Linked DNA regions of Homo sapiens: all the other regions are linked to region 1. Evidence: fine-mapped expression QTL. A gene starts in region 1. Each other region holds a variant in brackets. All regions are shown on one strand. Distances are between the middles of the regions.

What was found. PIP is the estimated chance that this variant, and not a neighbour inherited with it, causes the effect.
Region 2: its variant is fine-mapped to the expression of JAK2 in whole blood (TOPMed, PIP above 0.99).
Region 3: its variant is fine-mapped to the expression of JAK2 in tibial nerve (GTEx, PIP above 0.99).
Region 4: its variant is fine-mapped to the expression of JAK2 in whole blood (INTERVAL, PIP above 0.99).
Region 5: its variant is fine-mapped to the expression of JAK2 in whole blood (TOPMed, PIP above 0.99).

What each region holds. Positions count from the first base shown.
Region 1 is chr9:4,982,932-4,988,065 of GRCh38, reverse strand. JAK2 (Janus kinase 2) reads right to left here and starts at 2,794. Exons shown (of 25, transcript NM_004972.4): 1 at 2,436-2,794; 2 at 2,044-2,126. RefSeq lists enhancers at 1,992-2,041, 2,842-2,981, 2,910-3,743 and silencers at 2,372-2,701, 3,092-3,171, 3,212-3,261, 4,712-4,841.
Region 2 is chr9:5,077,161-5,082,160 of GRCh38, reverse strand. It overlaps JAK2 (Janus kinase 2), which reads right to left. Exons shown (of 25, transcript NM_004972.4): 15 at 4,581-4,708; 16 at 3,717-3,855; 17 at 1,781-1,932; 18 at 1,478-1,628; 19 at 300-436. It also overlaps a transcript of INSL6 not described here. Among named protein-coding and RNA genes, the nearest start is that of JAK2, 94 kb to the right of the region's middle. The variant A/G (reference allele first, on the strand shown) is at 2,913.
Region 3 is chr9:4,849,000-4,854,133 of GRCh38, reverse strand. RCL1 (RNA terminal phosphate cyclase like 1) reads right to left here. Exons shown (of 9, transcript NM_005772.5): 8 at 4,584-4,687. MIR101-2 (microRNA 101-2) reads right to left here and starts at 3,837; the gene lies at 3,759-3,837. It overlaps LOC124902113 (a long non-coding RNA gene), which reads right to left and starts at 3,767. Exons shown (of 2, transcript XR_007061402.1): 1 at 872-3,767; 2 at 1-320. The variant T/G (reference allele first, on the strand shown) is at 3,126.
Region 4 is chr9:4,955,726-4,960,859 of GRCh38, reverse strand. No RefSeq gene overlaps it. Among named protein-coding and RNA genes, the nearest start is that of JAK2, 27 kb to the left of the region's middle. The variant G/A (reference allele first, on the strand shown) is at 2,392.
Region 5 is chr9:4,940,382-4,945,515 of GRCh38, reverse strand. It overlaps the pseudogene HNRNPA1P41. Among named protein-coding and RNA genes, the nearest start is that of JAK2, 42 kb to the left of the region's middle. The variant G/A (reference allele first, on the strand shown) is at 3,015.

The DNA of each region.
Region 1 (5,134 bases):
GGGGGTTTAAGCAGAGACACAAAGTCAAACCTTTCCATACAAAGGCTGTAATACTCCCTCACCAGTTTAAGACCTTGAAGTCCTTTATCTCTTTATACTAGAAAGGAGGAAACACGAGTTACAGGCAGATCACCTTATGCAGTCATTCTGCCCTTCTCTGAATCTCCTTTGCCTCCCAGCCGTGATAGTAGCCAAGACTTTTATGACAGCCAGGCAGTTTACCACTTTGCATGTGTCTTACTCACTTCTCACAACAATCTTATAAGAAAGTGAAGCTAAAAGAGTCGTAAATAATATAACTCTTTTTTTCTTTCTTTTTTTTTTTTTTTTTAGACAGAGTCTTGCTGTGTTGCCCAGCCTGGAGTGCAGTGGTGAGATCTCGGCTCACTGCAACCACCACTTCCCAGGTTCAAGCAATTCTCCTGCCTCACCCTCCCGAGTAGCTGGGATTACAGGTGTGCACCACCACGCCCGGCTAATTTTTGTATTTTTAGTAGAGATGGGGTTTCACCATGTTGGCCAGGCTGGTCTCAAGCTCCTCACCTCAAGTGATCCTCCTTCCTCAGCCTCCCAAAGTGCTGGGATTACAGGCGTGAGCCACCATGACCAGCCGTAAATAATGCAACTCTTAAGTGGCAAGAACACCAGGATTCAAATCCAGATCTCACTCCAAAGCCAATGCACTTTCCTATTCTGCCTCAAAAGCATCCCACCTTTCAGTAATAGCCAGGTGAAAGAGAAACAATGTCATATTCCCTTCCCATATCTGAGACACCTGTCTCAAATCACCAAAGGCACACACACACAAAATTCCCTAATGAGTCCCTAAAACTGCTATAAATTGCAAATACAGGATATTCAGTTAGAGCAAAAACAAGCATGGTGTGCTCTTCTGGCCAGCAAGTACTGCAGCTTTCCTATTCAGGTAAATACATGTACTATTAAGGCAAGTGCTGGATACATCCAGTCTGTACATACGTTACACACCAACAGACAAATGCATGTACAAGCAAATAATTCTCACACTTAAAGTGGTATAAGGTGAGGCGGATGGGGGAAGGGAGGCCAAAAATTGATTATTCATCTTCAAATGTTCTGGGTGTTATATCAAAATACAAGCTGATCATCCCTTATCTGAAAAGCTGCAAAATCTGAAACATTTTGAGCACCAACATGATGCTACAAGGGGAAAATTCCCCGCATAGGTACTTAATACAAACTTTGTTTCATGCACAGACGTATTAAAAATATTGCAAATGACTTAGTGGCTGTGTGAATAAGGTCTATATGAAACAAACGAATTTCGTATTTACACTTGGGTCCCATCCTCAAGATGTCTGATTTTGTATATGCAAACATTCCAAAATTTTTAAAAAAAATCCAAAACACTTTTGGTCCCAAGCATTCTGGAGAAGGGATACAAAATCTTTATTTGCAGTAGCCCAACAACTCACTGTACAAACTTATTATGAAACCAAAAGCAATCATTTCCCTTATTCCCACTTCCAGTTTCCTTCTCCATACTCAGCCGCTCCTACCCTTTCATTCAGAGAAATGGAGTTTCTCCTAACAGATTAGTAATTACTGGAAAACAAACTGGGTAAATTCAACCGACACAGCAAGCTTAGGCAGATAAAACCATGAGGAAACATTCAATGTGGTAGCAGAAACCCCAGCAAGAATAGCTAACGTGTTCTCCCAAAAGCTATCTCTTATTGCTTGGAAATACTCCTCTTTAAAGGATTAAGAATCTCTGGCTGCTTAAGAAGAAAGGGTAATGGACAACGTTTTTCGTTTCTCTGCAAAGTCACGTTATGTGTAAAGCCAACAAAAAAATGTTTCTTAAAGGATCCAAGACGAACAACAAAACACCCCAAAATTACTCTCCCAGATCAACATTAAAAGTTTAGCACTGACATTTTCAGAAGAGTAAGCAACAATGAGCCCTGCCTCTCTTCACACGCTTCCAACCTTCCCTACGCACGCACTCCCAGCTCCAGACACCTTCGCCTTTACTGCAGCGATAAAGGACAGCACACCCACCGTCGCGGGAGGAGGAGGAAGAGCCTCTTTTTCTGCAGAAGAGAAACAGTTCACATCTTGTTCCTGTTGCCTGCTTCTGAAACCTAAAAACAGAAGCAGCAGTTAACTACTACCACATAAATCCAGGGGAAACAAATGCTTTTTCTAGGCTGTTTAAGTGTCTAGAAAATTTTAAAAAGGAATAAGGAGGCGGGAGCGAGGGAATTATAAGACACAAATGGAAGCAAATATCACCAGCAAGACTCGTTCTAGGTGTCGTCTTAAAGAGGAAGATTTTTCTGGCTCAGAAGTTTGCTGCCACTAGCAGGGGGCAGGCGGGACCAAAAGGTAGGAAGGGGGTGGAGAGACAGCTGCTGCCCCCCACCCAGAAGCCAGGCAGAGATAACACCCACCGGCTACACAGATCGGGCGACCAGAGCGCGCCCTCGAGCCCGCAGGGGCGGCTCCTACCCGGCGGGTCAAGGTCTGCGAAGCCCCGGGACGGGCACGGCTCTGAACGACCTCCAGGCTGGGCCCTCGGGGGCCCTCCAGTGTGGGCTCAGCTCCCACTCACATCCCTCGGCAGCGAGGACCAGGCCTCTCCCTGCGCCGCAGCAGCCCTCAGCCCCGACGCGCGCCGCAAGCCCGGGCCGAGGGGCCCGACCGGCCGAGAAGCCGAAGTGGCGACGCGAACACCCAAGCGAGCCGGGCGCCGGCCCAGCCTGTCAGCGCCGAGGGAGGCCGTTAGCGGCGTCCGCTGCTGCCCCCTTCTGCTCCTCTTCCTCTCTCCTTCCTGCAGCCCCACACCACTCCCACTTCGGGCAGCCGGGAAGCCCGTCACAGTTGTCTCCACCCTCTCCGGGGCCACACCGTCTTCTCAACGCCGCGGGCGACACTGGCTTCGCCGCCCTGCTAGCTTCGAACTCAGCCTCCCGGTTGGCCTGCAGTCTCCCCGAATGGCAGGAGACCGGGCCGGATAGAGGCTGGGGGAGAGCCGGACGCGCGTCCTGCAGTGCGCGTGCGCCGCTCGGTGCTGGTCGCGGGACCGGCAGGCGCGGGCCACGCAGGGCAGCTGCCTCTCGGGAAGCCGGCGAGCGCGCGTGGAGATTCCTGGGACGGCCCCTGGGCGTGAGCGCGCAAGGAAGTTAAGGCGGCGGCGCCTCGCGAAACGCTGGTGCCCGGCTGGAGCTAGGCGCCAGCGCTGGGCCCGGCCCTCACTAGATGGGCGGGTGTGTGTGTGGCCGCCGCCCTCCAGGGAAGCGGCCGGGAGTGACTCACCCTGGCTGGCTCCCCAGCGCGCAGCCTGCACTGGAGGAGGCCGGGCTGCCTCCGCGCGGAGACTCCCCTCCCGCACACTTCTCCGCTTTCGGCTTTTCCTTCCACCTCCCGGGTACAGCAGACCCGTCCTTCCCCAGTCCAGGCTGCTAGGCCGAGGGGAAGTGGCGCCGGGGGCCGGGGACAACGCGCTCACACACGCTGTTTCGTGGCAATGCGCCCTCGAGAGCCTGACTCCCATCAGCCACCTTGGCTGGAAAGGGGTGAGGGTGGGATGAAGCGCCCAGCCGCCTGCGGGTTGGCAACAAGGCCTAGCGAATGTTTCTCCTAGAGGAGAAACAACTTTACCGGCGTGGCCTGGTGTAGCCCGGGAGAGGGTGGAGACAACGGCTGTGACGGGCTTCCCGGCTGCCAAAGGGCCTCATTCATTCATTCAAATATTTACTGAGTGTCTACTAGGTGCCGGGCTGTAGGTCCCCAGAGATACCAGGTGAACACGACCCCACACACTCCTTGCCCTACTGGATTGTATTCTGATGGAAGCGACAAAACAACAAACAACGCTTTAAATGCATAATGTGCGGGGTGTGTAATTGCCACTAAGAAAATGCATAGTTTTCTGCTGCCATATACATAATAACAAAGAAAAGGAGTAGAAAGTGAGGAGGGGGTGTGCTATTTTACGGTGGCCAGGAACGATTTCCTAGAATAAGTGACATTTGAGCAGAGATCTGAAGGATGAGAATGAACCAGTCCCATGACTATCTGGGAAAAGAATTTCAGGCAGAGGGACTCCTGAAGGCAAAGACCTTGAGAAGGGAAAGTGTTTGGCAAGTTCAAGGATCAGGAAAGAGGTCACTGTGGCTGGAGGACACGGAAGGAGGGGGCAGTGGTAAGAGGTGAGGCCAAAGAAGTAGCCTGGCACCAGATCGTGTAGGGATTTTTTTCAAGTATTAGCCCTCTTTCTGTCAACCTAAATGAAGTGACGCATTCATAGCTCCTGTTTCCCCATACACAACTGATGCTGCTCTTCAGGTCTGTCTTGCACTTAATGGTTTCTTTAAATAAACCTCACCAAAGCAACTCCTGCATTTCTTCTTACATAAGACCCATTGCAAAAGGTCTTTAAGCAAATGATAGCAGCATAGGAAATTACTTGAATTCACCCTGAATCTTTTAAATAATGAACTAGAGCTGTATAAGAGGGAGGGATTTACAGGAAAATTGCATTCCTACGGCTACTGCTTCATAGGTAATATATGGGCAAAGTTAGTAAGAATTTCTAATTATTAATTGTGACTCAATGGCTTAGAATATCAAGGCCGCAATTACAAACAGTGACTACCAAAAGAGTTCCTTTTTTCCTGCAAACAAAAACTGCTACTGAGGTAAAAGCTAGAACACAGACCCACATAATGAAGAAGAGCTAAAGATGAGCTTAACGTCATGGGTAAATGAAAAGCATCACAACTGTGGAAATGGAAATGTGATATTTTGTGAGGGGAAGAAAATGCTTGTTTTAGAACTCTGAAACAGTATTACTTTCATTATAAGTGATGTTTCTATATTTTGCAGTGATATACTTATGTAACTAGGCATGGTATCTCTTACTGTCCACAGCCTGTTTGCAGGGAGAAGCCATTTGAAATTGGTGAATTGCAGGGAGAAGCCATTTGGAAGTGGTGAATATTGAGGATATTTTTGTGGGGGAGCAGGTTATTTTCTTAATATTAGAGATGTGGGTATGGAAGACAAGGTGGACAAGGGGTATATTATTCATAAGCCTATAGAATTGAGAAATCTTCTGTCTCCCCACATAGAAAGATGAAGCAACTTG
Region 2 (5,000 bases), 94 kb before region 1:
GCACTGGTCCCCTGGGCCCACTTTTCTTTCTCTATACTTTTGTCTCTGTGTCTTCTTTCTTTTCTCAGTCTCTGGTCCCACCTGACGAGAATTACCCACAGGTGTGGAGGGGCTGGCCCCCTTCATTCAGTAAAGATAGCTGTTTATTTAACACAGCATTTCTCCAACATCTGACAACCAAACCTTTTTTTTCTACAAGCACTCCTTAAAATGTTGTAGAAAGTGAACTTTAGAAACGCTCTTAAGTTTTTCCTAAATGAAATGATTATACTCTATTTGAAAAAATTCTGACAATTTACCTTGCCAAGTTGCTGTAGAAATTTCAAATGTCTCTCTTCAAACTGTGTAGGATCCCGGTCTTCAAAGGCACCAGAAAACCCCAGGGCACCTATCCTCATATTTGGTAACATGTCATTTTCTGTTAATAGTTCATAATCTGGAGAAATAAAGAATATTATCACCTTAAATTAGCAAATAACATTCTCTGGACTAAACTGATATACATTCAAGTTGACCAAAATAATCGTGAGTTAAAAATACTAAATGATACAGGGAAACTCAAATAGTTTCAATTATATTAATGGGAGCCTTTAATCATTACCCATAATCTGACAGGCCTTCAAGAGAGACTTTGCAAAGGATAAAATTTTGTTTTCCAAAATAAGAAGTTTTAGTATTCATAAAGTAAGGTAATATACTGATACTTATTGTGAGAAAGGTGAGTAGTACTGGGGTAGAAAGCACCTATAGGTCAAACACATGCATTTCAGCTCAGTATTTTGAAAAAGGAGAGAACAAAGCAAAACAAATACAGCTCATGTTTAGAGAATCAATCAATTATAAAATATGAGAAATGTTAAAGAGAATTGTTTTTTAAAAGTCAATTTAAGCAAAAAAAAAATACTATAATTTACAACTCACTAAATGGAAAACTAAAATTAGGTTACTGAAAGAAAAGGTCTTTTTGGCTGGGAGCGGTGGCTCAAGCCTGTAATCCCAGCACTTTGGGAGGCCGAGGCGGGCGGATCACAAGATCAGGAGATCGAGACCATCCTGGCTAACACGGTGAAACCCCGTCTCTACTAAAAATACAAAAAATTAGCCGGGTGTGGTGGCGGGCGCCTGTAGTCCCAGCTACTCAGGAGGCTGAGGCAGGAGAATGGCGTGAACCTTGGAGGTGGAGCTTGCAGTGAGCCGAGATCGCGCCACTGCACTCCAGCCTGGGCGACAGAGTAAGACTCCATCTCAAAAAAAAAAAAAAAAAAAAAGAAAAGGTCTTTTTATAAAAATGAAAATAATTCTCAGTCAAGGAGATTAGAATATGTATAAAGCATGAAAAGCCATATGAACATAAGAAATTAAGAGGGCCCAAATGACATCAAGAAAATGTTTTAAAGGAATTAAAAATTAGTAATGATTCATTAAATACAATAAAGATAGAAAGCTGGAAAATCAATAAGATCATTCAAATACATACCTGGAGTAAACAAACTGTTAAGATCTCGTATGATGGCTCTGAAAGAAGGCCTGAAATCTGGTTCATAATCCATACAATTATTTATAAGGTTTGCTAATTCTGCCCACTTTGGTGCAGGAAGCTGATGCCTATCTTCATAAAATTGTAGCTTCTATAATTAAAGAACCACAAACTGAGAATAAATTGTGTAATGCCACACCAACCTTCTTTTTAAAATTAGATGGGCTAAAAAATACAAATCATGTGAAAGAAATATGAAAGTTCAGAGATAGAGTAATTCTAACTTAGTCTATATAAACTTACTCTTTGAGAATCCAGAGCACTTAGAGGTTTATCTCCTCCACTGCAGATTTCCCACAAAGTGGTACCAAAACTCCATTTGTCTGTTGCCAAATTTAAATTTTTAGGATTTTCAATGCATTCAGGTGGTACCCATGGTATTCTCTCCTGAAGAACTTTTAAATGATACGAACAGAGTAGGGTTAAATAATTCACAAGTAAACCAATCTTTTATATGTAAATAGCTTTAAAGTTCAAATCATTTGAATAATCAGGCCTATTTTCTTTATTTTGGAGGGGTTGGATGTGCACATGCACATGACTGCATAAGCTTAAGAACCAGAAGGGACCTTCAAGATCATCTAATTCAATATTTCATCTTTAACAATGACAACATGGAGACATATGATTGAGTAATCTGCCCAAAGCCACACAATTTGTTAGCAGCAGAGACAGAATTAGAATCCTGTACAGTGAGTTCTGAATCAACTAATCTTTCCATTAAACCATAGTGTCTCAACTGGCATACCATTTTCTCAACCTCTTTCCATTAGTTTTACCTTCAAAAAAAAAAAATTTTTTTTTTGAGACAGGGTGTCACTGTGTCACTCAGGCTAGAGTGCAATGGCACGATTGCAGCTCACTATGCTTTGACCTCTTGGGCTTAAGTGATCCACCCAAGCGCTTTAGGAAGCAATCAGCCTCCCAAAGCATTGGAATTACAGGCATGAGCCACTGCACCTGGCCAAATCTTTTTTTTTTATATAGTTTATCCTAAAATTGCCCCATGATACTTTTTGGTATTTCTTCATAATGCGTAAGTAGTAAAGGTAATGTTACATCATTCAGAGATGTTCTAATGATTTAATAGCCATGGCAATTCCCACTTGCAGATAAAAAAAAAAACCCAAGGACCAACAAGCATTTATGGCAGATGGAAGGCTAAATTGCACCAAAATATTCTAGATATATGGAATTGATATAGGTGGGCTCTGCTCAAATCACGGAATTTCTCAAGTAAAGTTTCTGTGGTCTTTGATTCCACCAGAAGGACTGTATTCAAGAAAGGAAGAAGCAATATAACCCTACTTTCTGGTATTCTGACATAGACAGACAGACAAATAGATTGATTGACAAATACCTTCACCATATGAAT[A/G]CATTTTTTTCCATCTTCACTTCCGATTCCAAAGGATAAAATTTTCCAGGATACCAGATGTAAGACCCTGTAAGAATTTTCTGCCATACTCCCTACTCCTGTACTACTGCCCAGTTATCACTGTCTTCACTGTCAGATAAGTCATTAAGTTTAAGTACTATTAGCTTAAATAGGACACATCAGTGCACAAAAATTGATCAATTTAGAATCTAAATTTAGAACATCCAATTAGAGAAATTATCTAAGATAACAAAATTCAGTTATAATTATCTAGACCCAAAAAACCCCTCTCAACTATCTGACTGAAATTTGTATTTTTAACCCACTGTGTTAAGTAGTAAAGATGAACAAACACAAATCAAAGTTTTTTTAAGGTTTTAAAAAGTCAGAATTAGCTGGATAATTAAACTAATTTCTTCACAGAGGATAGAAAAAAATCCTAAAATCTCAGGCTAAATTTTTATTTAGTGACGAGAAGAAAAGAATATTTAGAAAATTTACTTGTGGCTCAAGGAATATTACAAAACTTCATACTAAAAATGGATAAAATCCTATCCTTCATACATAATTAGAGATTAAAACTGTTTTTAAAAAATCACCTCACAGTCCATGGTTATATGCTTATAAGAAAGAAAAATAGAGACTAAGATTTAACTAACAATTTAAATTGCTAAAAGTGATAATTTTATTATTAATCAGGAACATACAAATTAAATGGAATTCAAGGAAAATTAACAACATGCCCTTTACACCACTGCCCAAGTAAAGCTTAGTAACATTATATATAATCCTTCTAGAACTTACTGTCCTTTGGCAAAACTGTAATACTAATGCCAGGATCACTAAGTTTGATGAAAGGAGGATTTCCTGTCTTCCTGTCTTCTTCTCTGATAAGCAGAATATTTTTGGCACATACATTCCCATGAATAAGGGTGTTTTCTTCCTATTAGAGTTAAACGCACATATATTCAAATATCAGTCCACAAGTACTGGAGCATTTAGTATGTTCAAGCCCCCAAAACAGATTTAAAGAAGAAAAATACATGATAGTATAATAATTTGGAGGCATGCATTGAGAAAAAAGGAAATTTATGACTCCTATGCTTCCTGTTTTACATTTTAAATAACACAATAATCTATGCTTGTGATGAAATGAATAAATTAAAACTACCAATGCCATTTCACATGAGTTCTAAGGCTGACATGGTTTGTGTTTCTGGATGGGAGCTGACATTAAGAAATACTACTTCAGTTCTGCAGCAGGACATAGGTGCACCCTGAGGGGTCTGATGACTGGCAGTCCCCCTGGTATTCTTCTCTGTCAACACCGCTTTCTCATGGACCATAATGTACAATGGCCCAAAAATACAGAAGCACATACTTCTGCATAATTTTTGGTTGAATTTTCTAAATCCAAAAGACACAACATACAGATTGTCTATTAGTAGTTCTAAGATATTGATGGGATGACAAAACTTTTTTTTCAAAAGTGATTTTACATACATAAACATATGCCTAAAGTAATCTCTTTTTATCACCTAACACAGACTATTTTACATGAATTGGCATCCAATTACAGATTTATTTTTTGTTTCCAGGTAAAGATAATTTGTATATTGTTTTATAAAATAAAATAGTATCTTTTGATAAAAAGGTTGTACTACTTACTAGAAAATGCATGGCCCATGCCAACTGTTTAGCAACTTCAAGTTTCCATAATATATTTATACAATTTTTATTCTTTTTCAGATATGTATCTAGTGATCCAAATTTTACAAACTCCTGAACCAGAATATCTGCATTAAAATATAAGTAATAATAATAAGGCTTAAGTATAAATATAATTAAATATATGTAATTTAAATCTTTATACTTACATGTGACCATTATAGGTAAAGAAATTAAATTGGCAAAACTCACAACTTTAAAGAAAACTTAATGGATACACAGCATTATATTTTTGGTTTTTAGTTTACTTACAACAGCAAGAGTAGGAGTCTAAACAATTATATATTATTATATATAACATAAATGTATAATATATAATATACCAGCACACCTTTATATATTAGTACTGAATTATGGCTG
Region 3 (5,134 bases), 130 kb after region 1:
CTATCACTTGCTTTTACCATACACCAATTATGTTCTAGGGCTCAAACATCAGGTGACAGGGCTTTACAGAATTTAAACGCTTCACAAAACTAAGACATAGTGGTACTGTGCAAGCTCATGGAATGCAGTGAGGCCACTGACCCCAAGTAGAGGCAGGCTTGGCCGGCAGTTCCCAGTTTCCCCACTGGTTTCCTCATTGGTTCTTCAGAGGGCTGAGCTTTAGGCTGAGTGGGCTAGGAAGCCCCACTCAGTTGGTGTTTAACAAGGACAGTGTCCTCTAGCTCCTCAGCACTTCCACAGTCATGGAAAAAGGTCATTAACTAAAGTTAGAAAAAAAAAAGTCACGGTTTATTTTAGATTTCCAACTAAAGATAGAAAGAGATCATTTTACAGCAGAATTTGAAACGAGGACTTTGCTGAAAAGATGTAGCATGGCATCCTGCCTCAGGCAAGGTGCTTGGAGTCCAGCGATATGGATGGAATCCCAGCTCTTACATAAGAGCACAATGGGTTGGCCGGGCACGGTGGCTCACGTCTGTAATCCCAGCACTTTGGGAGGCCGAAGCATGTGGATCACCAGGTCAGGAGATCGAGATCATCCTGGCTAACACGATGAAACCCCGTCTCTACTAAAAATACAAAAAATTAGCCGGGCATGGTGGCGGGCGCCTGTAGTCCCAGCTACTCAGGAGGCTGAGGCAGGAGAATGGCACGAACCTGGGAGGTAGAGCTTGCAGTGAGCTGAGATCGCGCCACTGCACTCAGCCTGGGCGACAGAGGAGACTCCGTCTCAAAAAAAAAAAAAAAAAGAGCACAGTGGGTAAGGGAAGCAGTGACTGGAGGAGACTGTCCAGGTCTGAACCCCACTTACTGTCTGTGTGACCCTGGGCACGTAACTTGACCTCGCTGTGCCTCAATCCCATCACCTGTAAGACGGTGCACATGATAGTACTTGCCTTTTTTGCCCTTATGAAGTTATGATGAAAACCAGATAAGTTATTATGTCTGAGTGCTTAAAACAACATCTTGCACACAGTAAACACGGTGTTGTTTAAATAAACATCTACCTTACAGAATTCTTAGGATCAATAAGATGTGTGTAGTTTGCTCAGTAATGTGACTAGGGGAAGTCAGTCATAAAAATAATAACTAGAAATTAAAATTTTTTAATCCATAATTTAAAATTAATGGATATAGATTTATAGGTAGCTGGGCAGACCACTTACAGATGACTTAAACCCTAAAATCACCCAAAGCAAGTTTACTAGGCCTCCTGGGGTTCAAAGTGACCTGACCGGGCTACTCTAGCCACACTGCCTCTGGGGTAGTCCTGCTCCTCAAGGAGCAGTTAAAAAAAAAAAAAAGTGACCTGACCAAGGGACTGGACTGCAGCAGGGTGAAGGGGTGTCCAGGCAGGAACCACAGCACCCAGCACTGACAGCTCCTCAGGCACGTTGCCAGGAGCACTAAGCATCTGACTTAATCTAAGCTTCGTTCCATCTCCACAAGTCCAGGACTTCAGGACCACGCACCTTATCTACAAATGACACCAAGGCTCCAAGATGCTAAATACCATTTCCACGGTCTCCTGGTAGCGCGTGGTAGAGCCTTAAGTCCAGATAGGCTGGACTCCAAGACTTGTGCACTGGCAGAATGCAGAGAGCTCTGGTAACTGCAGTCTCATTCCACAAATAATTTCTGAAAGTGCTAATTAAGATGCATCTTAATTTTTGCTATTTTTCTTGCTGTTAATCCAAAAGTATAAATCCTCCCTCCCTAAACTGTAAAATTAAGCTTGTTGAATGGAGGGTGCAACTACTGTCACTAACTGTAAGCCACCTAAAACTCAACAAATTTAACAGAAATAGAATCTTCATATACCAGTGATTATCCAACAGTATTTTATTCTACTGAAAAAAAATCTCTTGGGCCTTTCTAAAAGAGTTTCACATTGGCCGGACTTGGTGGCTCAGGCCTGCAATCCCAGCACTTTGGGAGGCCAAGGCGGGTGGACCACGAGGTCAGGAGATCGAGACCATCCTGGCTAACATGGTGAAACCCCGTCTCTACTAAAAATACAAAAAATTAGCCAGGCACGGTGGCGGGTGCCTGTAGTCCCAGCTACTCGGGAGGCTGAGGTAGGAGAATGGCGTTGAACCCGGGAGGCGGAGCTTGCAGTGGGCGGAGATTGCGCCTCTGCCCTCTAGCCTGGGCGACAGAGCGAAACTCTGTCTCAAAAAAAAAAAAAGAGTTTCACACATACAGACTTACTTTCTCAAGTAGCACAGAAAACCACCAACAGCAATCCCAATGCTCTTTACATAGACATTTAAAAAGCTGTTTTATACACACGAAAAACAGGTCCAAACTGCTTGAAGAAATGCTTTTTTTTTTTTAAACCAAGGAAGGTCTTGCTTCTGGTTTTCTTTAGAAATCTGAGGTTTCACAAAACAGGTTTCTATGACTTTAACTACACATAAAAATAAATGTGTTAGTTTGGTCTCCAAAGCTCTTGAATCCATTAGAATAAACTATTCCCCCACCATGATGGTCCTCACCGTGGATTTCATCCCTTTTTTATCCTCAACTGTACTCACAAATACAATGTTAACTTTGCCTGCTGCATCCTGCCTTTGCCCTTCATCTCTTTGTGCTGCTGGAGCTGTCCATAGTGATTAGGGGCAGAAAGAGTATGAAACAGATCCAGCTTTCTTGAAAATAGACTCCCTTACCTGTCTTTATGCTAGCTTACCAAAAAGAACGGAGGCTTCCCTTTCCCACCCTGGCAGACCCGTCTGCACAAAGCTCTGGGAGGCAGCAGAATATCTCTAAGCCCCAGCCTCAAGATACATCATCTTACAATTTGTGCTACTCCTTTAAAGCTCCATTCAGAGCAGGACACTGTTTTCACAGGAGAGGAAGTCATTTTATGCAAGTTTTCTGGAAGAAAAGACACTACAATTAATGTTTGGTGAGAAGATGTGTTGAAGAGGACACAGGAACTTTCAAAAATGTCCAGTCATATCTTGAGCATCTCTGCAAAGCTTGAAAACATCATACAGGTCCTGGAGCCAAATTGAAAAATCTCCAAAAGCAAAAGAAAAAAAGTGTCACGAAAAAAAACA[T/G]ATATGTATTCCATTTTCACAGAATGTTCTGCCAAACCCCATGCCCCAGGACCACACACATTCAAGACAACACCCCATACCTCATACCGTGTGTGCAAGCAGGACTTCCCCAGGCCTGAAGCAAGGGCTGGGAAACGGCAGCTACGAGCCCAGCTACAAAGCCGGTGGGGCCACAGTGGCCACACAGCTGGCAGCCGCCTCCAGTGAGCTCTCTACAGGAAGCGAGTCTCTGTACCTAGGGTGCCATTCTTCCAGCCCTCATCTCCTCTCCAAGTACTTAACTACCAAGTCTATTTTAGCATTGTTTACTACTGATGTTACCACGCCATTTAGGATTACTCAATTTTAGGTATCCTGTCCTACGAAATACTTTTACACAAGCTATCAGGAGATAATGTGGTCCTTACCAGTTTCCTGCTTATCAGTCTTCCCTCTCTGCTAACAGAATGTATTCTCTTCCATTTTCCTGTTCTAAAAAAACCTCCCACCACGAATTCCAAAAAAAAAAAAAAAAAGAAAAAAAAAAGCCTCCATAAGAATTTATTTCAAGCTCCTGGTTTTCATGCCCCCAACGCCATGGCCCAAGGGTGCATAGCCCCACCGCAGTCCTCAACCCTTTCTCAATGTGATGGCACCACCATTCTTCAGTTATCACAGTACTGTACCTTTCAGATATACAGCATCGGTACCATGATAACCGAAAAAGGACAGTTCAGTCTCATATCTACCTGAATATTCCCTGCCACCCAGCTCACCAACCTCAGATGGGCCATATGATGATCTCCAAGTATGCAAGCACGTGAAAACACACACACACAATGTCAGTACTCAAATAGGCTGTTTTCCGCAACCTCATTTACTATCAATAGGAAATGCTTCTTTCACAGTGTCATTTATAATTCAAGTCTTCTGACACTGTTCTTTTTGAAGAGTGCTTGCTTTTACACCACAGCAGTCAACTTCTGCTAACATTCAACAATCCAAACTCACTTCTACAATTCCCTACTAGTCCAGTAGCATTAATACAAACTCTGTCTTTTGTCATCTTTCCCAGTGAGCTCATATCCTATCATCTTAGACAAAAAGCCTGTTTTCCCACAGCAAGTTAGACAGCTAAGGAAAAGAATGATTAAAAAAAAACTAGTAATAAAATCCAAGCTACACCAAACCAGGAGTTTACCTCTAACCTGGAAACAAAATCTAAAGCACGAACAAAATAACTGCCCAATAGAGATCATGCAATTTCAGTTACCTGGGATTAAGGAAGGAAAGAAATGCAAAAATCCTTGTATGTAAAAATAAACACCAGGTTAAGAGTGACAACTGCTGGCTGATTTGAGGATAAACACAAGCAGGTGTTCATAGTGCAGGCTCTGTGCAGCACAACACCCTTTGTCATTTTGGGCAATGAGAAAATTACACTGGACAGAATAACGAGGTTGAAAAAGAATAACTTACGTGTAGGGAGAGAGAGGGCCTAGCAGGACTTTGGAAACATCCTGCTGTCCAAGGGTCATGAGTAGTAGCGCCAGGCTTTGGTTGGTCGAGTCTACGCATCCACCCTGTAAACACAAATTAATAATTGTACAAACCAGAAAATGGAAAGCCAACAAAAGAGAGGAGGAAAAAAAAAACCAGAAACATACACTCATAATATCAAAATCCAAAGTTCAAGCAACAATAAAACAGAATACAGGTCTTATAAGAGTAATCATTGTATCAACTAACTGTAGAGGGTTAAACTAACAGTTAATTAGAGCAACTGTAATAGTTGAGACTATCAGAATGAGACTATCAGATTCAAATCTTCTTAAGTGAATCTAGTAAAAAAAAAAAAAAATGAAACTTTCCCTTTATCATTAAAGCAGCAGCAGGAGGACATCATCTTTATTGAGTATATGCAAAAAAAAAAAAATCTTAATCAGTTCTAGAAGATGTAGAGTTAATTCCAAGGGTTAAGTGGATGACGCTCATATTTATTGAATCTGTCACAGAACAACACAGTCTAT
Region 4 (5,134 bases), 27 kb after region 1:
AATTAAAAGATCCTAGGCTGTGCACAGTGGCTCATGCCTGTAATCCTAGTGTTTAGGAAGGCCAGGATGGGAGGATTGCTTTAGACCAGAAGTTCAAGACCAGCCTAGGTAACATAGTGAGACCCCGTCTCTACACAAAATTTAAAAATTAGCTGTGTGTGGTGGCACTTGCCTGTAGTCCTAGCTACTGGGGAAACTGAAGCAGGAGGGTTGCTTGAGCCCAGGAGTTGGAGGCTGCAGTGAGCTACGATCATGCCCCTACACTACAGTCTAGGCAACAGAGTGAGACCTTGTCCCCCACCAAAAAAGAAACAAAGAAAGAAAGAAAGAAAATAAGACCCAAATATATGTTGTCTACAAAATAAAAAAAGCACTTTAAATACAAAGACACATATAGATTCACTAGGAATTGCAAATTAAAACAATAAGATACTACTACCTACCTATAAGAATGACCAAACTCCAAAACACTCACTGCACCAAATGCTGGCAAGGATGTAGAGTAACAGGAACTCATTGATTGCTGGTAGGAATGCAAAATGCTCACTACTACTATTAAAAACAAAGCCTTTTTTTTGCCAGGGGTGGGGGTGGAGGATGGAGTCTCTCGTTCTCACCCTGTTGCCCAGGCTGGAGTGCAGTGGCAGAATCTTGGCTCACTGCAACCTGTGCCTCCCAGGTTCAAGGGATTCTTGTGCCTCAGCCACCAGAGTAGAAAACAAAGCCTATTTTTAATGGAGAAATAAAACATATTCATAATATAAAATAAAAATTGAGAGAGTTTGTCAGTAGTAGACCTGCCCTACAATAAATGTTAAAGGGACTCCTCCAGGGTGAAAGGGACGGACACTAAGAACAAGGGTAAAGGTAGCTACATAAGTAAATATAAAGGACAATAGTATTGCATATATGGTTTATAACTCTTTTCTATATGATTTAAATGACAAATGAATAAAACAATTATTAAAATGCTATGTTAATGTGCATTCAATGTATAAAGATATAATTGTGACAATAACAACAGAAAGGGGAAAGGGATGGGGCTGGAAAGGAGTACAGTATTTACCTACTATTGAAAATAAGGTATTGGTATTAATTTAAACTTTACTGATGTAAAGTTAAGATATTAATTGTAATCTCCAGATAACCACTAAGGAAAAAACTTTAAAATATACAGAAAAAGAAATGAGAAGGAAATCAAAACAAGAAAGCTTGATCTAAGAGCAAGTTGTCAGAATAGTTCTTTGGCTCCAGTCTCCCTCACAGAAATCCAACTAGCAACTATCCATGGACAAGAATTCCTTTGTGAATACCTCAGAACTTGAAAGTAAGGCTGAGACATCCTCTGGGACAGGAGAATGGAGACAAGTTGCATTCAAAGGGTAAAAGGAATAGCTTCAATTTGACTGAAAAGTATACTTCCCCCAAGCCTGCACAGCACCACACAGAGAGAACTCCCCTAGGTCCAGTTTCCACTGTGGGAAAAGAGAGTTGGAGGCAAACATTCAGCTTCCTCGCCAGTCTGGAGCCCTTTGAAGACAGATCACTCCTGTCTTGCCCCATGGGGAACATAGGGCAGGCAGAGGTGGTGGTGGTGGTATTATCAACAGGGATAGGCCATCTGGGGCGGGGCTCATAGTGGCTAACATGCAAATTTTGGTGGTGGCTCTGCATTCTGGCCAGCAGAAGCACTTCACCAGAGAAACTGGCCAACAGAATTGCTCCTAACACAAAGAAATAATAAATGCTTGAGGTGATGGATACCCCAATTACCCTGATCAAAACATTGTATGCCTATATAAAAAATCACACGTACCCTGTAAATATGTACAGCTGTTATATTTTCACTATTTTTGTGAAGAATGTCACTGGTATTTTGATAGGGATTGCATTGAATCTGTGGATCATTTTTGACAGTATGATTATTTTCACAATATTAATTCTTCCAATCCATGAACATGGCATGTCTTTTCATTTATTTATGTTTTCTTCAATTTTTTCATCAGTGTTTTATAGTTTTCCTTTTAGAGATCTTTCACCTCTTAGTTAAACTGATTCCTAGGGGTGTTTTTGTACCTAGTATAACTGCGATTGCATTCTTGATTTCTTTTTCCATTAGTACATTGTTGGTGTCTAGAAATGCTACTGATTTTTGCATGTTGGTTTTGTATCCTGAAACTTTGCTGAATTAATTCATTAACACTAACCTAGGCTGAAGAAGTTTGGGGCAGTGACAGCAGCAGTGAAAGCTGTTGATATCTTTAGTGGCAAGAGTTTTTAGGGTCTTCCTATTTTGGGATTCCCCACAACATGGAGACTTAGCCAAAGGGATCCCTCTTAGTGTCAGGTCTGACATGGCCTATAAGCAGTTGTAGAGGCTCTGAGTTCCAG[G/A]TGCAGGTGCTCAGGGTGGCTGAGGGGCCACACAGACCTAAGCTTAGGGTCTTGTGACCCCACTGTGGCACCTGGGTCTTAGGGTTCAGGTTTGTTCTCTGTGGCCAGGTTGGATGTATCATGCCCACAGACTCAGGTTCTGTGACTCTCAGGCATCTTCTGGCAGCTCAGGCCCATGGAGCGTGTGATTCTACCCCTGGAGGGCAGGGCAAAGCACTGGCCTGGCTCAGGGGAAGAAGGGGTACTCTGGAGGCTTGGGCCTACAGAGCAGGGTATGGCTGCAATTTGGGAATATGAGTCATAAGGCTCAGTAGCAAATCATATCCCAAAGGATGAAGCATCATACAGTGGTGACTCTAGACCCTGGGATAGTGGGACTCAGCAGTATCCTAGACTCTGTGAAACCAGGATCAATGGCAACAAGTACCCCAAAATGGCAGAGCACAGCTGTCCTTTGAGCCCTGTGGGGCATGGAACAATGACTCTACTTCTTGGATAGAGGGGCAGGGCTCTCCCCAGGGAGCAGAGTCTCTGTAGCTCAGACTCTAGAGCTAGTCCAGCTCCAGGAAAGCAGGGCAGTAGAGTTATTTGGCCTATAAGTGTTGTGTCTCAGCTCAGTCACTGCCCTACTTCCCTGGGACGCATGGTACTACATCATCTCATCTCTGGGATGCACAGTTGCTCAGATTGGCCAGGGCACCAATTCCCCAGAGGATGATGTGCCACTTCAGCTCAGGCCTTGGGGGGTGTGACTGTCCAGGATAAATTCATAATTACTAGTCCCACAAAGATATAATACAAAGAAAAAATCAATGGAGCCTGACCCCAAAATGATCTAGCTGTAAGAATAAAGACTAGAATTTTAAAGCAGCCATTATATTATGCTCAAAAATGTGAGGGAAAAATACGCTTTTAATGAATGGATAGATAGGATACTCATTAAATAAATAAAAACTATAAACAGGAACAAAACACTTTTTCTAGAAGTAAAAATATACTATGTGAAAAAATTATATTGTATATTTGAATATATATTTGAAAACTGCTAAGAATGTAGATTTTAAATTATCTCACAACAAAAAAAATATATGAGGTTATGGATATGTCAATCAGCTTGATTTAATCATTCTACAATGTATACATACATCAAAACATCACACTATACATTATAAATATACACGATTATTTATTAATATAAAATTTCTAAATTATATATATAATTTCTAAAAAGACATAACCTAATTTATTCAAAGAGTAATAGAAAACTGAAAGTGTATGCATGCAATAAGTATGGCATTGTTAAATTCATTAAAGGACTGCATACAAAAAAATGGGATTATGCAAATTCTCTTTTTTTTTTTTTTTTTTTTTTTGAGACGGAGTCTCGCTCTGTCGCCCAGGCCGGACTGCGGACTGCAGTGGCGCAATCTCGGCTCACTGCAAGCTCCGCTTCCCGGGTTCACGCCATTCTCCTGCCTCAGCCTCCCGAGTAGCTGGGACTACAGGCGCCCGCCACCGCGCCCGGCTAATTTTTTGTATTTTTAGTAGAGACGGGGTTTCACCTTGTTAGCCAGGATGGTCTCGATCTCCTGACCTCATGATCCACCCGCCTCGGCCTCCCAAAGTGCTGGGATTACAGGCGTGAGCCACCGCGCCCGGCCGCAAATTCTCTTTAAAAATTTTTTTTTATTTTTTTGAGACAGAGTCTTGCTCTGTCACCATGGCTGGAGTGCAGTGGCATGATCTCGGCTCACTGTAACTTCCGCCTCCTGGGTTCAAGGGATTCTCCTGCATCAGCCTCCCGAGTAGCTGGGATTACAGGTGCGTACCACGCCCAGCTAATTTTTGTATTGTTAGTAGAGACAGGGTTTCGCCATGTTGGCCAGGCTGGTCTTGAACTCCTGACCTCAAGTGATCCACCTGCCTTGGCCTCCCAAAGTGCTGGGATTACAGGTGTGAGCCACCGCACCTGGCCTAAATTCTCTTTTTTAAAAAATTAAAATTCTCTGGGTGAACTTAAAAGCATAAGATGAAAGATAAGTTGCTGAACTTAAAGATAGGTGGGTAGAAATTATCCAAGCTGAAGAAGAGAGAAAAACATTGGTGAAAAAAGAGAACAAAGCCTCAAGGATTAGAGTACAGTATCAAATATTCTAACATTTATCTAATGAAGTCCCACAAGAAAAAAGGAGAGAATAGAAAAAATATATGTATTTGATAAAATAATCACTGAAAATTTCCCACACTTAGTGAAAGCATAAATTTATAGATTCGAGAATATGAAAAACTTCCAAAGATGATAAATATGAAGAAAATTGCATGTAAGAACATGAAAGTCCCATAGTTCTTAAAACATGAGTCACGGACCCCTAGGGATCAAAATAATATGAAGATAATATTTGCCTTTTTTTTTTTTTTTTTACTGTGTTGACATTTACACCAATGGGGCAAAAACAATAGTGGACCAAACTGCTGGGGCCTTAGCATGAGTCAAGGCAGTGTCACCAAACTACACTTAACAATTACTGTCTTTTATACCATTAGAAACTCAGTTTAAAAAAAAAAAAAGAAGAAACCAGTTTTACTTAAGAATATTCTTGATGAATCAATAAAAATTATTAATTTAATTAACTCTTAGCCCCTGAATGTACACCTTTTTTTCATTAACAGACTTAATTTATTAGAGCAATTTTAGGTTTTTCCAAAAATTTTGAAGATCTTACAGAGAGTTCCACATACCCTC
Region 5 (5,134 bases), 43 kb after region 1:
CAGGCGCCTGTAGTCCCAGCCACACAGGAGGCTGAGGCAGGAGAATGGCATGAACCCGAGAGGCGGAGCTTGCAGTGAGCTGAGATGGCACCACTGCACTCCAGCCTGGGCGACAGAGCAAGACTCCATCTCAAAAAAAAAAAAAAAAAAAAAAAAAAAAAAAAGAGTTGTAGAAGCAAAGAGAGTTGTCTCAAGAGAAAATTCTCAAAGACCAGGTGCCCAGTTAACTGTGAAAAATATATTTGTTGGTGGCATTAAAGAAGACACTGAAGAACATCACCTAAGGGATCATTTTGAACAGTATGGAAAAAATTGAAGTGATTGAAATCATGACTGACCGAGGCATTGGCAAGAAAAGGGGCTTTGCCTTTGTAACGTTTGACAACGGTGACTCCATGGATAAGACTGTCATTCAGAAATAGCATACTTGAATGGCCACAGCTGTGAAGCTAGGAAAGCCCTGTCAAAGCAAGAGTGGTTCTGGAAACTTTGGTGGTGGTCATGGAGGTGGTTTCAGCGGGAATGACAACTTGGGTCATGGAGGAAACTTCCATGGTCGTGGTGGCTTTGGTGGCAGCTGTGGTGGTGGTGAATATGGTGGCTGGGGATGACTACAGTGGATTTGGTAATGATGGAAGCAATTTTGGAGGTGGCGGAAGCTACAGTGATTTTGACAATTACAACAATCAGTCTCCAAATTTTGGACCCCTGAAGGGAGGAAACTTTGGAGGCAGAAGCTCTGTCCCCTGTGGTGGTGGAGGCCAATACTTTGCCAAACCACAAAACCAAGGTGGCTATGGTGGTTCCAGTAGCAGCAGTAGCTATGGCAGTGGCAGAAGATTTTAATTAGGAAACAAAGCTTAGCAGGAGAGGAGAGCCAGAGAAGTGACAGGGAAGCTACAGGTTACAACAGATTTGTGAACTCAGCCAAGCACAGTGGTGGCAGGGCCCAGCTGCTACAAAGCAGACATGTTTTAGACAAATACTCATGTGTGTGGGCAAAAAACTCGAGGACTGTATTTGTGACTAATTGTGTAACAGGTTATTTTAGTTTCTGTTCTGTGGAAAGTGTAAACCATGCCAACAAAGGGTTTTAATGTAGATTTTTTTTTCACCTATGCTGTTGATTGCTAAATATAATAGCCTGATTGGGACGCTGAATAAATGTCTTTTTTTTTTTTAATGTGCTGTGTAAAGTTGTTCTACTCTGAAGCCATCTTGGTAAATTTCCCCTACAGTGTGAAGTTAGAGTTCCTTCAGGGTGATGCCAGGTTCTTTTTGGAATTTATATACAACCTGCTTGGGTGGAGAAACCATTGTCTTCAGAAACCTTGGTGTGGTTGAACTGATAGTTACTGTTGTGACCTGAAGTTCACCATTAAAAGGGATTAGCAAAGCAAAATCATGGAATTATTGGTTATTAAAACGATTGTTGGCATATCCTATGCAATATATCTAAATTGAATAATGGTACCCAATAAAATTATAGATGGGAATGAAGTTTGTGTACCTTCCATTATCATGCATAATCAATAAACGATTTAATTCTCTTGAAAAAAAAAAACCTGAAAGGAAACACACAATTGACTTCAGGTGTTGACACTTTGGAAGATTTTTCAAGTTATTTATAGTGACAGATATTAATGTTATAAAGAAATAAATGCACTTTTTATTTTAAAAACTCTACCATTTCTCTGAAGAAGAAACAAACAAGATTTTAAAAAATCTTATACTAGTCAGTAGAGTATAGCTTTCCAGCTAAGCAATGAAATCATTTTAAATGGTAAACTTTATATTAAAGATATGAAGAAATGAACATGATTGTCCCATAGTTAAATCATTTTACTGCAGATAAATTGCCTGAAGCACATTTTCTTTGATCGTTCATAGGGATTTATATTTTTAAACAGGTTGAAGTTTAGATGTCCTCAAGAGTGTCACAGTCTAATTATATCATAGGTACGAAGTAGTTGTGTGACTGTATTTAGAAAGCATAACCTTTCTGTTAGCGATATCTCTAAAATGCCTGACACTTTACAGAATACTGTGAAATCAAATACAGACTCTGCTGAGATGGTATTGAAACATTTTGCTGTTAGTCCACGGTGAATACTGGCCTTTAGAAAAGCATAAATACTACTTTCTGCATCTACCAAAGAATTAATTAAATCTGTTGCAGTCTTTTTGATCGTAAAAAATGATTGCTACAACTTGCTTAATTATCCTAATTTTTTTTTCTAGTCAAGAAAAAACTCCTGTGGATATAGGAACCTTGCCTTGCTTGATTGCATGCAGACTGCCAGGTAGTGATACTACCGAAAACTTGTGCTTCCATTCCTTAATTAGAGATAATTGCTGGTTGAATGGGCAATTTTCTTTCTCTTTGGAGAAAGGATCTAGATACTGTGCTTCAAACCAATTGTTCTGTTTCAAGTGGAAGTCCTCTAAGCTGGGACATGAAATGCCAAACTCTTATGCTTCAAATGTCTCCATTTATCCATTTAGGCAAAGCTAGATAAATTTTCTGAAATGGAAATTACCTCAGCATCTTTCTCTGATATTGACTAATTCCCACATCTCTTGTATCTATGCAAATTTTAACCTGAATCTTAAAAACAAACATTTTGGAGAAAGGCCCCTACTAATTTAAAAATTAAACAAACAAAATTCCCTAACCAACTTTACTGGAACCCATTACTTGCTTTTTCTTCTGAGCTATCAGCACTTCTTTCCTAGACTTTAAAGCTGTTGTTCCAATGTAAACAAATATATCTAGCTTGAACTCAGACTTAGTTATCCCTTGCTTTTGCTTTCTACACTAAAACAAAGAAATAAAAAATTTTGCTGAGAAGTGTTCTCGTTTTGAAAAATTTAAAGCAGTAACATTTAGCTAAAAGCTTTTGCCTTAAATCAGCTTATTAAAAAAAAAGAAGAAGAAGAAGGAGAAAGAAAGCATATTTTTGTAGGGACCTGGAGCATAATAAAGTTTAAAACCACAAGGAACTTCTTTTCTT[G/A]AGTCACCTCTTCTTACCAAATAGTGGTTCCTATCAAGTGATTTCCTTTCAGAGTACATTTTACTCCCTACTTACAAACTCCTATAAACAAGTGTGTGTGTGTAACCCAAAGCCAGAAATCCACCTACAGGCCGGGAACAGTGGCTCATGCCTGTAATCCCAGCACTTTGAGAGGCCAAGGCGGGTGGATCACTTGAGGTCAAGAGTTCAAGACCAGCCTGGCCAACATGGTGAAACCCCATCTCTACTAAAAATACAAAAAATAAAAATAAAAAAAATAGTTAGGTGTAGTGGCACACACCTGTAGTCCCAGCTACTAGGGAGGCTGAGGCGCAAGAATTTCTTGAACCCCAGAGGCAGAAGTTGGAGTGAACCAAGATCGCACCACTGCACTCCAGCCTGGGTGACCAAGCGAGACTCGGTCCCCAAGAATAAACAACAACAAAAAAATCCACTTACAACTAGACCAGTTTCTACTTGGCTAAACACCCAGGATAGTCAAAGCTGGACCAGTTTCTACTTGGCTAAACACCCAGGATGTTTAGCTGTCCTTAAAATATATTGATACTGCATATTCTTTAAAAGAAATATATGGTAACAACTATTTTATTAAGTTTTCATTAGTCTAATCGAAAAATAGGATATTTTTCACACATGGAGATAATCCTACCTATTCTGCAAGTCAGTAGGTATTTCTTTCCAATTATTTAAATTAATCTGTTTGTACATTGTCCCTATGGTACATTAGATCATTGCTCTCAATTCTTTACCCCCTCCTTCTGTCAGGTGAACTTCTAATGGGAGTTATTTCCCTCTCTCATTGATGTTGGGCATAATTACATATGTGATTTGGTTTGATCAATTAAATGATAGCACACATGAGCATAGGCCTTAAGTAGTTTGACTTGGCCTCTTTTTTTTTTTTTTTTTTTTTTTTTTTAGACAGGGTCTTACTCTGTCACCCAGACTGGAGTGCAGTGGCACAATCTCGGCTCACTGCAGTCTCTGCCTCTTGGGTTCAAGCAATTCTCCTGACTTGGCCTCTTGCCTTTCATAATCCACCAGGAGAAGAATATGCCTCAGATAGCTAATGGGATTTGGGAACATGTGAAGCAGGCCTGATCCCAACTTGAGGCTTTGATATAAGCCCAGCTGTCCTGCAAAAGAAGCAGAGCATCCCAGATCATCCACAGGCTCATGAACAAGGAAAATAAAGGCTTATTTTTATGAGCCACTGAGTTTTGGAGCTGTTTATTACTCAGCATTGTAACAATAGCTGACTAATATATCCCATATTTCGTGTTCAGTGACATATATATCTGTGAAAATTGATTGATAGAATCATATCCTTATATTAACTCTCAGTCCCGCAATATGCAATGACAAGGAGCTTTGAAGACTCAAATAATCAAGTACAACCCAATGACCAGTGTTTTTTGCTAATATCAATGGGGACCCCAGACAAATAATAAACACTAGATAATATTCCATAATGAAGTTGGAGAAGAAGTAAATAGAGTACAAGAATCAACAAAAATGTAAGAAAATCCTAAAACCGTAAGAGCCTTATAAAAATAGCTGGAGTGGGCAAGAATGTGTGAGTTTAACCAAGCCATCTGCCTTCTGCTCCGCTGGCAAACAATTCAGTTATACAGTACAGCTCTTGATTAAATATAAAAACACTTCTCCCACCCTTTTTCTGTCATAATAATAATTTTGGTGCATTTCTTTGTATACATTGTTTTTTATATACTGCAAGAATTTTTCATGTGGCTAAAAACTACTGAGTCTCAATATTTTTCTGATTCGCTACCATTGACTTACCTAAGATATTTCCACTAGGACAATATAGATTACATATAATGTTTTTTTCATAATCGTTATTTGAAATGGCTGTATAATCTTCCATTGAGTGGATGCACCATAATCTAGTTAAACTATTTCCTGTTGTTAGATTTTAGGCTGTGACTAATTTTTCACTATTATGAATAATTTTCCTGTGAGAAGTGCAAACCGTAGGCATATTTTTTTAATCTCTGGATTATTTCCTTAGTACAAATACCCAGGAGATTCTACTAGGTGAAAGGATGAGAATATTTTAAAATCTCCTGATAGCCAGG